3 separate regions of the Homo sapiens genome follow, and regions 1 and 2 are each linked to region 3. Evidence: fine-mapped expression QTL. A gene starts in region 3. Each other region holds a variant in brackets. All regions are shown on one strand. Distances are between the middles of the regions.

The links. PIP is the estimated chance that this variant, and not a neighbour inherited with it, causes the effect.
Region 1: its variant is the best candidate, but not a certain one, in a credible set for the expression of CHMP7 in whole blood (TOPMed, PIP 0.83).
Region 2: its variant is the best candidate, but not a certain one, in a credible set for the expression of CHMP7 in tibial artery (GTEx, PIP 0.62).

The regions. Positions count from the first base shown.
Region 1 is chr8:23,173,610-23,177,849 of GRCh38, forward strand. No RefSeq gene overlaps it. Among named protein-coding and RNA genes, the nearest start is that of TNFRSF10D, 12 kb to the left of the region's middle. RefSeq lists enhancers at 1-492, 2,834-3,390. The variant G/A (reference allele first, on the strand shown) is at 1,983.
Region 2 is chr8:23,274,876-23,279,115 of GRCh38, forward strand. No RefSeq gene overlaps it. Among named protein-coding and RNA genes, the nearest start is that of R3HCC1, 11 kb to the right of the region's middle. The variant C/G (reference allele first, on the strand shown) is at 1,755.
Region 3 is chr8:23,241,235-23,245,474 of GRCh38, forward strand. It overlaps CHMP7 (charged multivesicular body protein 7), which reads left to right and starts at 2,403. Exons shown (of 11, transcript NM_152272.5): 1 at 2,403-2,610. RefSeq lists an enhancer at 2,095-2,596.

The DNA of each region.
Region 1 (4,240 bases), 68 kb before region 3:
TGCTGATTGGTGTGTTTACAAACCTTGAGCTAGATACAGAGTGCCGATTGGTGTATTTACAATCCCTGAGCTAGACATAAAGACTCTCCACGTCCCCACCAGACTCAGGAGCCCAGCTGGCTTCACCTAGTGGATCCCGCACTGGGGCTGCAGGTGGAGCTGCCCGCCAGTCCCGTGCCGTGTGCTCACACTCCTCAGACCTTGGGTGGTCCATGGGATTGGGGCGCCATGGAGCAGGGGGAGGTGCTCGTCGGGGAGGCTTGGGCCGCACAGGAACCCATGGAGTGGGTGGGAGGCCTCAGGCATGGCGGGCTGCAGGTCCCGAGCCCTGCGCCGCAGGAAGGCAGCTAAGGCTCGGTGAGAAATCGAGCACAGGGCCAGTGGGCTGGCACTGCTGGGGGACCCAGTACACCCTCCGCAGCTGCTGGCCCGGGGGGCTAAGTCCCTCATTTCCCGGGGCCAGCAGGGCTGGCCGACTGCTCCGAGTGCGGGCCCGCCAAGCCCACGCCCACCCGGAACTCCAGCTGGCCCGCAAGCGCGCACGCAGCCCCGATTCCCGCTCGCGCCTCTCCCTCCACACCTCCCTGCAAGCTGAGGGAGTGGGCTCCAGCCTTGGCCAGCCCAGAAAGGGGCTCCCACAGTGCAGTGGGGGGGCTGAAGGGCTCCTCAAATGCCGCCAAAGTGGGAGCCCTGCCGAGAGCAAGGGAGGGCTCTGAGGACTGCCAGCATGCTGTCACCTCTCAATTTCTTAATATTTTCTTTTTTTTTTTTTTCGATGGAGTCTCGCTCTGTTGCCCAGGCTGGAGTGCCGTGGTGCTATCTCGCCTCACTGCAAGCTCCGCCTCCTGGGTTCACGCCATTCTCCTGCCTCAGCCTCCCCAGTAGCTGGGACTACAGGCGCCCACCACCGCGCCTGGATAATTTATCTTTTGTATTTTTAGTAGAGACAGGGTTTCACCGTGTTAGTTGGTCTCGATTTCCTGACCTCGTGATCCGCCCACCTCGGCCTCCCAAAGTGCTGGGATTACAGGCCTGAGCCACCGCGCCAGGCAATTTCTTAATATTTTCTTAGCTAGAACTTTGCCTTTTTGTCTGAGCCTATAGCACTCAGGGTTTTGGGTAGTAGGGCTGGTACCTCATGTTTCTTAGATCTGTTAATGAGTGGGACCAGTGCCTGCGCTCAGGTGGTCAGGCCAACATCAGATGGGTCCCTGGCAGAATATTTTTTCCTAACATATTCCTCTACTGGTTTCCAGGGGTCAGTAGATGTCAATATGGGTTGTGGTGGTATAATTTCTTTAAATTTTTCGTGAAGGCCTCGAAACAAATTAAATATAATCTTTAAAATTTTGTTTTATCATATACAGGGTGTTTATGCTAAATCTTCATTCAGAAATCTAATGATTGTTGAGAGACCAGATTCCTGAAACAGGCAATCCAGACTCCAATATGTAGTGCTAAGGCTCTGATTCAGGGACCACTAGAAGAGAGAGGGTCCAGCTAGTCTCACGTTAGCAAACACTTAATGTCACTCACACTCCCCGTTCACTCTTCCTCCTCCAGGCCAGGGCCTCTCTCCCCTGAGCCCACATGGGGCCTGTGGTAAGCAGTTTCTGAAATGGCCCCAGTGTTCCTCTCTCTTGGTATTCATGGCTGGGACGTAATAAGAAACATCTGTTTTTTTCTCTGCTCCTGGTTTTGGGGCCAAAGCTTCAAAACACTGATGTTTCCTGAGCAATTGTGGTGAGAGGGGCTTTATTTATTTTAATCATAAAACGACTTCCAGCATTCCTGAGTTGATGCTCATGAGGTGGCTCTTGGAGGAGAGGGTCCGGCCGCCAGTGATCAGAGCAATGGAACTTTCAACACTAGCACATCCCTCAGCTCAGAGCAGGGAGATGACTGAGGATTAATCACCATAGATTAATGATTGACGCCTTCGTGCTATGGAATGAACCTGCCATAAACACCATAAACCACAA[G/A]GTTCAGAGGAAGGAATAATCAGTCGCTCACTGGGGTTGGACAGATGAGAGTAACACAGAAAAATTAAGGGCAACATCACACTTTCTATATCAAAAGTAATGTCCATGGACTTTACATCACTATATGCTACAAATCTAATGATTTAATAAAATCTCCTTAAGAAATTAGAGAAGTTCATTTTATTTTATGTTGGGCAATGGACTTTCTAAGTTTATGACCAAGAAAAAAATAAGTGTACCTATAGATTTAGCTACTTAAAATTTAAAATTTCAGTACGTTAAAATCTAAGACAAAAAGAATAGGCAAATTTAAAAAACCAGAAATCTGTTATTAGTATTTGGGAAGCATGAAGCCTGTCTTTCTAGACAAAACAAATCCTAAAAAATGAATTTGAACAAAGAAATTTAAAGTACTGACCAATATATGAAACATATATCAGAGAAATGTCATCAAAGTCAACTAATTCTTTCCTAGTTAGGAAAAATGAAATCCAAAGAACAGTGATGTCAGATCTAAAGTGATGCACTGTTGGTAGGAATCACAGCTGTGTGTGTGTGTGTGTGTGTGTGTGTGCGCGCGCGCACCTGTACGGGTTAATGCCGATATTCTACTTCTTCTAGAAAATTGCCTAATGAATGTGATTAGAAATGTGGCCAAAGATGTATTCTCAAATATTCACAACTTCTTTGCCCTTCGCATACTGGTGATAGAGGTTTTGGGGAGAGGGGCTGGTATTTGGGTGGAGCATGACACTGGACTCTCGCCTTTGCCCATCTTGAGAACACAGGCCATCCTCTTAATCTTTGGAGGGGGACTCACAGGATGTTTATTAACTTTATGTTTTGTGGGGGGCTTTGGGCAGGGTCCGAATGTTAGGAAAAGGGGCACAGAGCTGAAGAATGAGTCGCCTGTAATGAAGTATCACACACAGTGAGCCCTGCCTAGTGCTGGCTTGTGGGAAAAAGGAAGAATAGAGCAGGAGGAAAGAAAGGTCAAGTCTAAGAAGAGGAAAGATGAGACTGGAGGATTGTGGAGGGTTCAAACCATAGCTCACAGCCCAGGGTTTCAAGTGAGGCCGAGGAGTTCATGGGGAGGGCAAGTGAGAAGCAGGGGGGACCCGGAGCAGTACTCCCTTCCCTCTGGGGAAGGGGAACAGCATGGGAGCACGCCTGGGCCTCCCAGGAGCTATAGGCAAGAGGGAGGGGTTCCTCCAGGGCAAGGAAAACAGGAAATGGGTCTCCCAGATGCCTGCAGGGCTGAGCAACCTGGTCCCACTCATGAGGATGCAGGGAAGTTCAGGGGAGAAAGCGAAGATCGGGCCAGGGCTGGAGGAAGCCACAGGAGAGTGACCACAGGACTTTCCTAACAACCAGGGCCAGCTCACCTCTCAGGAGGACCCACTGCTCCTTCCTTGACGGCTCTGTCAGAGCCCAACTGCAGCCCCAGGTGCAGCCAGAGGACCCCCCGGGAGGCTGTGGGTGAGCCAGCCCAGTGCTAGTGTCCCTGTCTCCAAAGGGAGGGGAAGAAGGAGGTGCTGGATTCAAGTCCCCAAGACTCTGTCACTTTAAGTTCCAGGGAGTCAGAGGCAGGAAACAACCCCACACCGACTTCAGCAAGCCTGAAGGAAGAGAAGGCAGGAAGGTGTGAGTCACAGCAAGAACACAGCCTGTGTTACTCAGAGCTGTTTCAGGGAAGAATGGGAGGACAGGGGCAAAAAGAAAAACAAAACCTCTACACTTCCTTTATGTAAGTTTCCATAGTTAATTTGGTCATGAATTCACACATATCTCAGGATTTTACCCTTAATTGCCTTCTTTTTATGTTTGATGTTACCAACATACTCTTCAGATATGATCATCTACTGCTTTCTCTAGTAGGAGAACAGACAAGCAAGGGAAGGTCTGCTTTTGTGAAGCAGTTCCTTCCCTCCTTGCACACAGCAGAGGCTATCTGGCCTGTTCTTTTCTCCTGTCTTCAAATTAGCGGATTCTTTCTTCTGCCTGATCAAATCTGCTGTGGAATTTCTCTACTGGATTTTTCACTTCAGCTATTATATTTTTTTCAGTCCCAGGATTTCTACTGGGAACCTTCGAATATTTCCTATATCTTTGTGGATATTCTCTATATGTTGATACAGGTATGTATAGATATCTATAGATGCATCAATGTTTCCCCAGAAGAAAGGTGCAGGTGCTGCTCTGGGTTTCCCTAGAATATTTCCCTGCAGCCCCTGCCCATGGGCTCCTCAGCCTCACCC
Region 2 (4,240 bases), 34 kb after region 3:
GTATATCCTGCAGCTTATGAAAATCACATGCCTATATTATACATGCACTATAGAGATATACATTTGGATACATACATTACAGACAATTTTATGTGAAAAGAGCAGGAGTCTAGAGAGGAAACAACCGATCATCATAGCACTCAGAGACAACCACTGCCCACATTTCAGTATATTTTCCTTCACTGTCTTTTCTATTGCCTTTTTTTTTTTTTTTTTTCCTTGAAACGGAGCCTGGCTCTGTCACCCAGGCTGGAGTGCAGTGGCTCAATCTCAGCTCACTGCAACCTCCGCCTCCCGGGTTCAAGCGATTCTCCTGCCTCAGCCTCTGAGTAGCTGGGATTACAGATGCCATGCCTACCACCACACCTGGCTAATTTTTGTATTCTTAGTAAACATGGGGTTTCACCATGTTGGCCAGGCTGGTCTTGAACTCCTGGCCTCAAGTGATCCGCCTGCCTCCGACTCCCAAAGTTCTGGAATTACAGGTATGAGACACTGTGCCCAGCCTCTATTGCCTTTTGTTTAGTAAATGAGATCAATTTTGTTTCATTTTTTTCATAACCTTTAAACTTTTAAACATAGGTACTTTTTATGCCGTTACAAAGGCTTAATATTCATTTTTAGTATCTATTTTTCCTCCATCCCCTTGGGCCCCAGTGTGGCCACAGACAGGCTCGATGTGAGGTTGGCTTTCGAGCTAGGGAAAATAAATCTGGATTTTTTAAAAAATTATTTTATTTTATTTTACTTTTTGAGACGGAGTCTCACTCTGTCACCCAGGCTGGAGGGCAGTGGCACGATCTTGGCTCACTGCAATCTCTGCCTCCTGGGTTCAATCAATTCTCCTGCCTCAACCTCCTGAGTAGCTGGGATTACAGGCACCCACCAACACGCCCGGCTAATTTGTATTTTTAGGGGAGACAGGGTTTCACCGTGTTGGCCAGGCTGCTCTCGAATTCCTGACCTCAGGTAATATCCTTGCCTCGGCCTCCCAAAGTGTTGGGATTACAGGCATGAGCCACCATGCCGGGCCATAAATCTGCATTTGGAGGTAGTGTCCAAATTTCTGCAAAGTCATTTCATTGTAAGGAGACCTTCACAGGAGATCCCCTCACTCCATCTGAGTTCCCATGACTCTGCCCTTTAAGAAGAGGCTAGAACTCTGGAGAGGTTGAGGTCTCCTGGGAACTGAGGGACAACAAAAGTGTCAGAGATTTGGGGGGTGTGGCGGGGACTCTCCTGGCTGGCATGGCACACACACACAGGCTAATCAGGTAGAGCGAGAACTAGGGAAGATGACTCATTCCCCTCTCCCACCAGCCCCTGCGCCTCCGCACCCTCCCCTCTCTCCCACTTTCCCTCTCTAGTTTTGGCCCTTTCTCCACCATCTCTGCCTTTCTCTGCCCTTTTATCACTCCCACCGCCTTGGCTCCAGAATGGTCTTCACTTCTGGAAACAGCTGTGGCTTATAAGAGTTTCTTAGTTGATTTTCTTGGATTTTTTAGGTTAAAAAAAAAAAAAATCAAAGGTCGGGTGTGGTGTCTCATGCCTGTAATACCTGCACTTTGGGAGGCTGAGGCGGGAGGATGGCTTGAGCCAGGAGTTCAGGACCAGCTTGGGCAACATAGTGAGACCCCCGTCTCTACAAAAAATACAAAAATTAGTCTGGTGTGGTGGTGTGCATCTGTAGTTCCAGTTACCGGAGGCAGGAGGATGGCTTGAGCCCAGGAGTCCAGGTTACAGTGAGCTACGAT[C/G]ATGTCACTGCACTCCAGGCTGGGTGACAGAGGGAGACTTTGTCTCAAAAACAAACAACAAACAAACACAAAAACCACCAAAAACACAAATATTCTGCAAACAATGAGAAGTTGATCACCTCAAATGTCTAAACTTTCCAGTTTTTATGTCTTTTTGTCAATTTGCTTTTGTTAATACCTCTTTAAAAAAAGGTAAACACTAGAGGCATGGGTACATAGCCTTGACTTGTCCTGAAGTGAATATGGTTCCTCTGTGCTTCTCCATTTAGCCGTGTGTGGTGTTTTGATCATTTTATTTAGATCCTTAAATGAATTTGCGTAGAGTTGTTCTAACTGTGAGTTGGGTAAAGAACATATAATAATGTTTCGCTTTTTGAAACATTCTCTCTGTCACCCAGGGTGGAGTGTGCAGTGGCGCAGTCTCGGCTCACTGCAAACTCTGTCTCTTGGGTTCAAGCGATTCTCGTGCCTCAATCTCCCCAGTAGCGGGATTACAGACGTGAGCCACCACACTCAGGGTTTTGCCATGTTGGCCAGGCTGGTCTTGAACTCCTGACCACAAGTGATCCGCCCGCCTTGGCCTCCCAAAGTGCTGGGATTACAGGCATGAGCCACCACGCCCGGCCTCTTTTTAATCCATTTTAATGTTTGTAATATAATTGAATTATCCCACGTCTGGTTTGCTTGAAACACTTTGGTGTTACTTTTTTTTTTTTTTCTGGCTTCCTCTCCCTCCCCAGTTATATTTTTCTATATGGGCAGTGTTTCTTTCTTAACCAACTTCCCTAACTTCTGGCAATTATTTGGAAAACATAGCATTTACTGACTTTGCCATAGTTATACGCCTCTTCTCCTCCCCACCATACTTTGGAATGTACTCTGGGGTTCCTGTCCCAGTTTATGGCGATAAAGAAATTGCTTTTGTTTTTACATTCTGTAGTCTTCCTTTCAAGATTTATAATATTTGTATACCATTTTGTTGCTCTGATTATTTAAGTTAATTGAATGTTTTAAGTAAATGAATTATTTAGCACAAGGTCTCTTCTCCCAGGTCATCCCAGCTTGTGAGTCATTTATTTGAATTCATCTCTTGGTTGTGGGGACCATGTCTTCCAGTGGCTTTCTAGGAAGGACCGTGAATCTCAAAGCATAACTCAGAAATATTTCATGAGCTGGGTAACTAATTCACAAGCACACCAAGGAGACAGACATTAGATTCTTACCAAGGCACAAAGACCTAAATAAATAAACAAACAAACCAGTGGGAGGATTTATAAAGACAGAAGAAAAAGGTGCCAGCCTAGGCAGGGTGATTTTTCTAATGATTAGCTGGAGGCTATCAAAGAGGCTAGTCTGGGTGATCTGTTCTGGAAGAGATTGAAGAGGTCACTAGAGAAAAAAAAAGTTATCTGTGGATTTTGCAAGATGTCTTTTGAGTAAAGCTGTGCAGTACACGTGACAGGCTGTCCCTACACAGTGTCTGCCAGTATGGCCTGGCATCCCCACCTGACAGGCCAGCATCACTCCATTTCTCTTGGCAGAATGTGACTGCAGGTTTGAGAATATCTTTCTATTGCCATCACATTTTATAGAATTTCCCAGTCTTAACATTTTCCATCTAAAATTCTACAGATATTGTTCCATTGCTTTCTGGCAGATGAGTTGCTAGGAAAATCTATCAGCCACTTAATTTTTTTCCTTTGAATTTTGCCTAAATCAAAATTCATTTTTTTAATTATCAGAGAAAATATTTTTACCATAATCTGGATCAACCTTTTATTTATATATTTATTTTCTAGAACACCATTTTAATCTGTAGATTCACATTTTCTTTTGTTTTAATAAAATATTGTTGTATTTAACATTGTGTGTGTGTGTGTGTGTGTGTGTGTGTGTGTGTCTGTGTGAGACACAGGGTATCACTCTGTCACCTAAGCTGGAGTACAGTGGCACAACCACAGCTCACTGCAGCCTCAACCTCCCAGGCAAAAACGATCTTCCCACCTCAGCCTCCCAAGTAGCTGAGACTATAGGCATGCGCCACCATGCCTAGCTAATTTTTTTTTTTTTTTGGACGGAGTCTCGTTCTATTGCCCAGGCTGGAGTGCAGTGGCGATCTAGGCTCACTGCAAGCTCGGCCTCCTGGGTTCATGCCATTCTCCTGCCTCAGCCTCCTGAGTAGCTGGGACTACAGGTGCCCGCCACCACGCCCAGCTAATTTTTTTGTATTTTTAGTAGAGATGGGGTTTCACTGTGTTAGCCAGGATGGTCTCGATCTCCTGACCTCGTGATCTGCCCGGCTCGGCCTCCCAAAGTGCTGGGATTATAGACGTGAGCCACCGTGCCCGGCCATGCCTGGCTAATTTTTTAAATTTTTGGCAGAGACGGGAGTCACTCTGTTGTCAGGGCTGGTATTGAACTCCTAGGCTCAAGTGATCCTCCTGCCTTGGCCTCTCAAAGTGCTGAGATTACAGGTATGAGCCATC
Region 3 (4,240 bases):
GAAAGCAATGGCTGTCCCCCTACTCTGCAGTTCAATAGCTAAGGTTCTGCCTTTTTTTTTCTCCTGTCTTCATGACAGCCTAAGTTTGGTTCCTAAATCAAGTCCTTTCTGGTTTGATAGTTGGTACTTCTGCTTTTTTTTTTTTTTTTTTTTTTTTTTTGAGACAGAGTTCCGTTCTTGTTGCCCAGGCTGGAGTCCAATGGCGTGGTCTCAGCTCACCGTAACCTCCGCCTCCCGGGTTCAAGCAATTCTCCTGCCTCAGCCTCCCGAGTAGCTGGGATTATAGGCATGTGCCTTTTGAATTTCTTAGTAGAGATGGGGTTTCTCCATGTTGGTCAAGCTGGTCTCGAACTCCTGAGCTCAGGTGATCCACCAGCGTCGGCCTCCCAAAGTGCTGGGATTACAGGTGTGAGCCACCGCGCCGGACCAATACTTGGTACTTCTGAAATAGCAGCAATTTGTCCTAGCTGAAATATAATAATAAAATTTTGAATTTTTTTTTTTTGAGACAGAGTCTTGCTCTGTCGCCAGGCTGGAGTGCAGTGGCACGATCTTGGCTCACTGCAAACTCTGCCTCCCGGGTTCAAGCGATTCTCCTGCCTCAGCCTCCTGAGTAGCTGGGACTACAGGCGCGTGCCACCACACTCGGCTAATTTTTGTATTTTTAGTGGAGACGGGGTTTCACCATGTTAGCCAGGATGGTCTCCATCTCCTGACCTCATGATCCGCCCGCCTGGGCCTCCCAAAGTCCTGGGATTACAGGCATGAGCCACTGCACCCAGCCCAAGATTTTTTATTTTTAAAGACACTCAATAGTTAAAAGTCAACTTAATTAAAAGCTAATATTTAAAATGTATGTGTATGTGTATGTGTGCATAAGTGCATGTTCATATTTAAAAGGCCTTCATGGTTTTGTTTTTGTTTTTCTCTGCTAGGACCTTGTCTTTTTTTGAGCAAAAACTTTTTTTGTTCTCAATTGACTCAATTCTGTTTCCACTCGATTTTTTTTTTTTTTTTTACTAAAATAGTTATTGCAACAGAGGCTACTCTTGGGTTTTTAAGAAAGAGTATAGTTTAGACACTTAGAAATGCTTTGTTTACAAAAATGTTTTAAGTGCACTGTAAAAGCATCATGTGGTCTAGCCTCATAATAATTCTCCCTTTTTGGAGACCCAGGATTCAGTGTGGGCTCTGCCCAGAGCTCAGAGATCCAGTTAAAAAAGAATTGGTAGTCCCTATCTAAATAACAGTGGTCTCCTTATACAATCCAGTGATAAATTTCTATAATTTTATGTTCAATTGGCAATTAAATCTGTTTTAATTTCCCTCTAGCTCACAGAATTTCTCTTCAGACCTTATAATGTAAATTTTGCTATCTGACTTTCACCTGAGTTGTTTCCTTTAATATGCAAATTTAAGACTATTTAGCTGACTACTGCCTAGCACTGTGAAACAGGTTATCAAGAATCTGAAAGTCTAAGATAAAGAAAAAAGGTTTTTATGAATCTGTAAGATGTACTTCTTCTATCAGCATGCCTAATACATCTATGTATTTATATGTTATGTATACAATGTTGCACTCCTGAAAATATATCAAAGAGCTCTAATTAATTGTCTTAAAAAATAAAAGCATTTACATCAAATACTTTATTAGAAAAAGGAAAGACTAGTCAAATGCTTTTTCAAGTTATGTGACTTAAGTAAAATCTTTAATAAATAAGCTATCTTTAAAATTATTGGTAAAGTAATATTAGAAATGTCTTAGGAATTGCCAGCATACATTTTTATTTGCGTTTATTAATCAAGCAATTTCATACTTAACCCTGCCAAATACTATTAGGTGTCAAAATTTGGCACAGGCTATAAACCCAGCCCAAGACAGAATGATCTCTGCTCGTGTAACCATTAATAAATAAGACATTGATACTGGTTTAATGAAAATAGCTACATCTTGATTTAGTAAAATTACCATAACTTCTAATCTTGTGGCAGTCTAGGCAGTCTAGTCCACAGGCAGTAAGGAGTTTTGTTTTGGGAAAGGACTGTTATACTTTGTTTCAAAGTTAAACTATAAGTAAACTTGCATGGGAAGAGAATGTTTAATTTTGTGAAAAACGACCAAACTGTCTTCCAAAGTAGCTCTTAGAGACAACCTGTCCACAGAAGAACGCAGCAAGCCCCCTCCCCTAAATGCCCTGCAGCTTATTTCTTCTGAGATGCTGCCCCTACTTCACGTTACCAGAACTTAGGTACAGCTGTATCCACCCCCAGGCCAAACCACATCCTGGTACTCTAAGCCAGGTGGGGCAAGAAGTGACAAACAACTGCAGGATGTAGACTAACCTCAGAAAGCCCCTAGGCCCTCAAAGCCCTATATAAGTCCCTCACCTTAAACACCCTGGGCTGCCTCCTCTGACTGTTATGCAGCAGGCCGGCAGGTCAATAAACTTGCTTGCCTGACTTTGAGTATACTCGTCTTTTCTCTTGGCCAACCTTACGGTAGCTGTACCAGTTTGCATTTCCACCAGCAATGAATGAGAGTTCCTGTTGCTCTGCATCCTCACCAGCATTTGGTGTGGTCAGTATTTTGGATTTTCACCATTCTAATAGGTGTGTAGTAGTATGCTATTCTTGTCTAATTTGCTGTTCCCCAATGACATATGATGTTGGGCATATTATCATATACTTATTTGCCGTTGGTAGATCTTCTTTGGTGAGAGGTCTGCTCAGATCTTTTATCCATGTTTTAACTGGGTTATTCTTTTTCTTTTTTTTTTGAGTCTTAAGAGTTCCTCGTGTGTTTTGGATAACAGTCCTTTATCAGAGATGTCTTTTGCAAATAGTTTCTACCAGTCTGTGGCTTATCTTCACATTCTCTTCACAGTGTCTTTCAGAAAGCAAATAATAATAATAATAATAATTACGTCTAATTTATCAATTATTTCTTTCATGGATTATGCTTTTTGTGTTGTATCTAAAAAGTAATCATGATGCCCAAGGTCATCTAGATGTTTTGTCTTCTAGGAGTTTTATTGTTTTGTGTTTTTACATTTAAGTCCATGATCCATTTGAGCTGGCTTTTGTGAATGGTGTAAGATCTGTACCTGGATTTGTTTTTGTTTTTGCATGTAGGTGTACAGTTGTTCCAGTGCTCATTGTTGAAAAGACTCTTTGAACCATTGTATTGCCTTTCTTTTTTCGAAAGGTCAGTTGACTGTATTTACATGTGCCTATTTCTGGGATTCCTATTCTGTTCCATTTATCTATTTGTTTATTCTTTAACTAATACCACACTATCTTGATTACTGTTGATTTATAGTAATTCTTGAAGTTGGGTTGTATCCGTCCTCTGACTTATTTGTTCAATATTGTGTTGGCTCTTCTGGGTCTTTTGCCTTTCCACATAAACTTTAGAATTAGTTTGTTGATATCCACAAAATAACTAGCCATGATTTTCACTGGGATTTCACTGGATCTACAGATCAATTTGGGAAGAATTGATATCTTGATAATATTGAGTTTTCCTGTCCATGAATATAAAATGCCTCTGTATTTATTTAGTCCTTCATAGATTTCTTTCATCAGAATTTTGTAGTTTTCCTTATGTAGAATTTGTACATACCGTGTTAGATTTATACCTAAGTTTTATAGGGGGGTGCTAATGTAAATGGTATTGCATTTTTAATTTCATATTCCACTTGATCATTATAGGTATATGGGAATTGACTTTTATACATTAACTTTGTATCTGCAATCTTGTTCTCATTGCCTCTTAGTTCCAGGACATCGATTTGGCAATTCTTTCATAATTTTCTGCATGGATAATTATGTCTTCTATAAAGACAGACCATTTTATTTCTTCCTCTTCAGTCTGTACAACTTTTATTTCTTTTTCTTGGCTAACTGTGTTAGCTAGGATTTCCCGTACAGTGTTGACTAGGAATGGTGTGAGCAGACATTCTTGTGTTATTCCTGATTCCACTGGAAAACGATCTAGGTTTTCACCATTAATTCTTATGTTGGCTGTAAGGTTCCTGTTTATGTTCTTTATCAAGTGGAGGATGTGTCCCTCTATTCCTAGAGTGCCGAGACTTTTTATCATGAGCTGGTGTTGGATTTTGTCAAATGCTTTTTCTGCATCTAGCAATATGATCATATGATTTTTCTTTAGTCTGTTGGTGGATTATATTAATTGATTTTTGAACATTGAACTAGCCTTGCCTAGCTGTAATAAATTCCG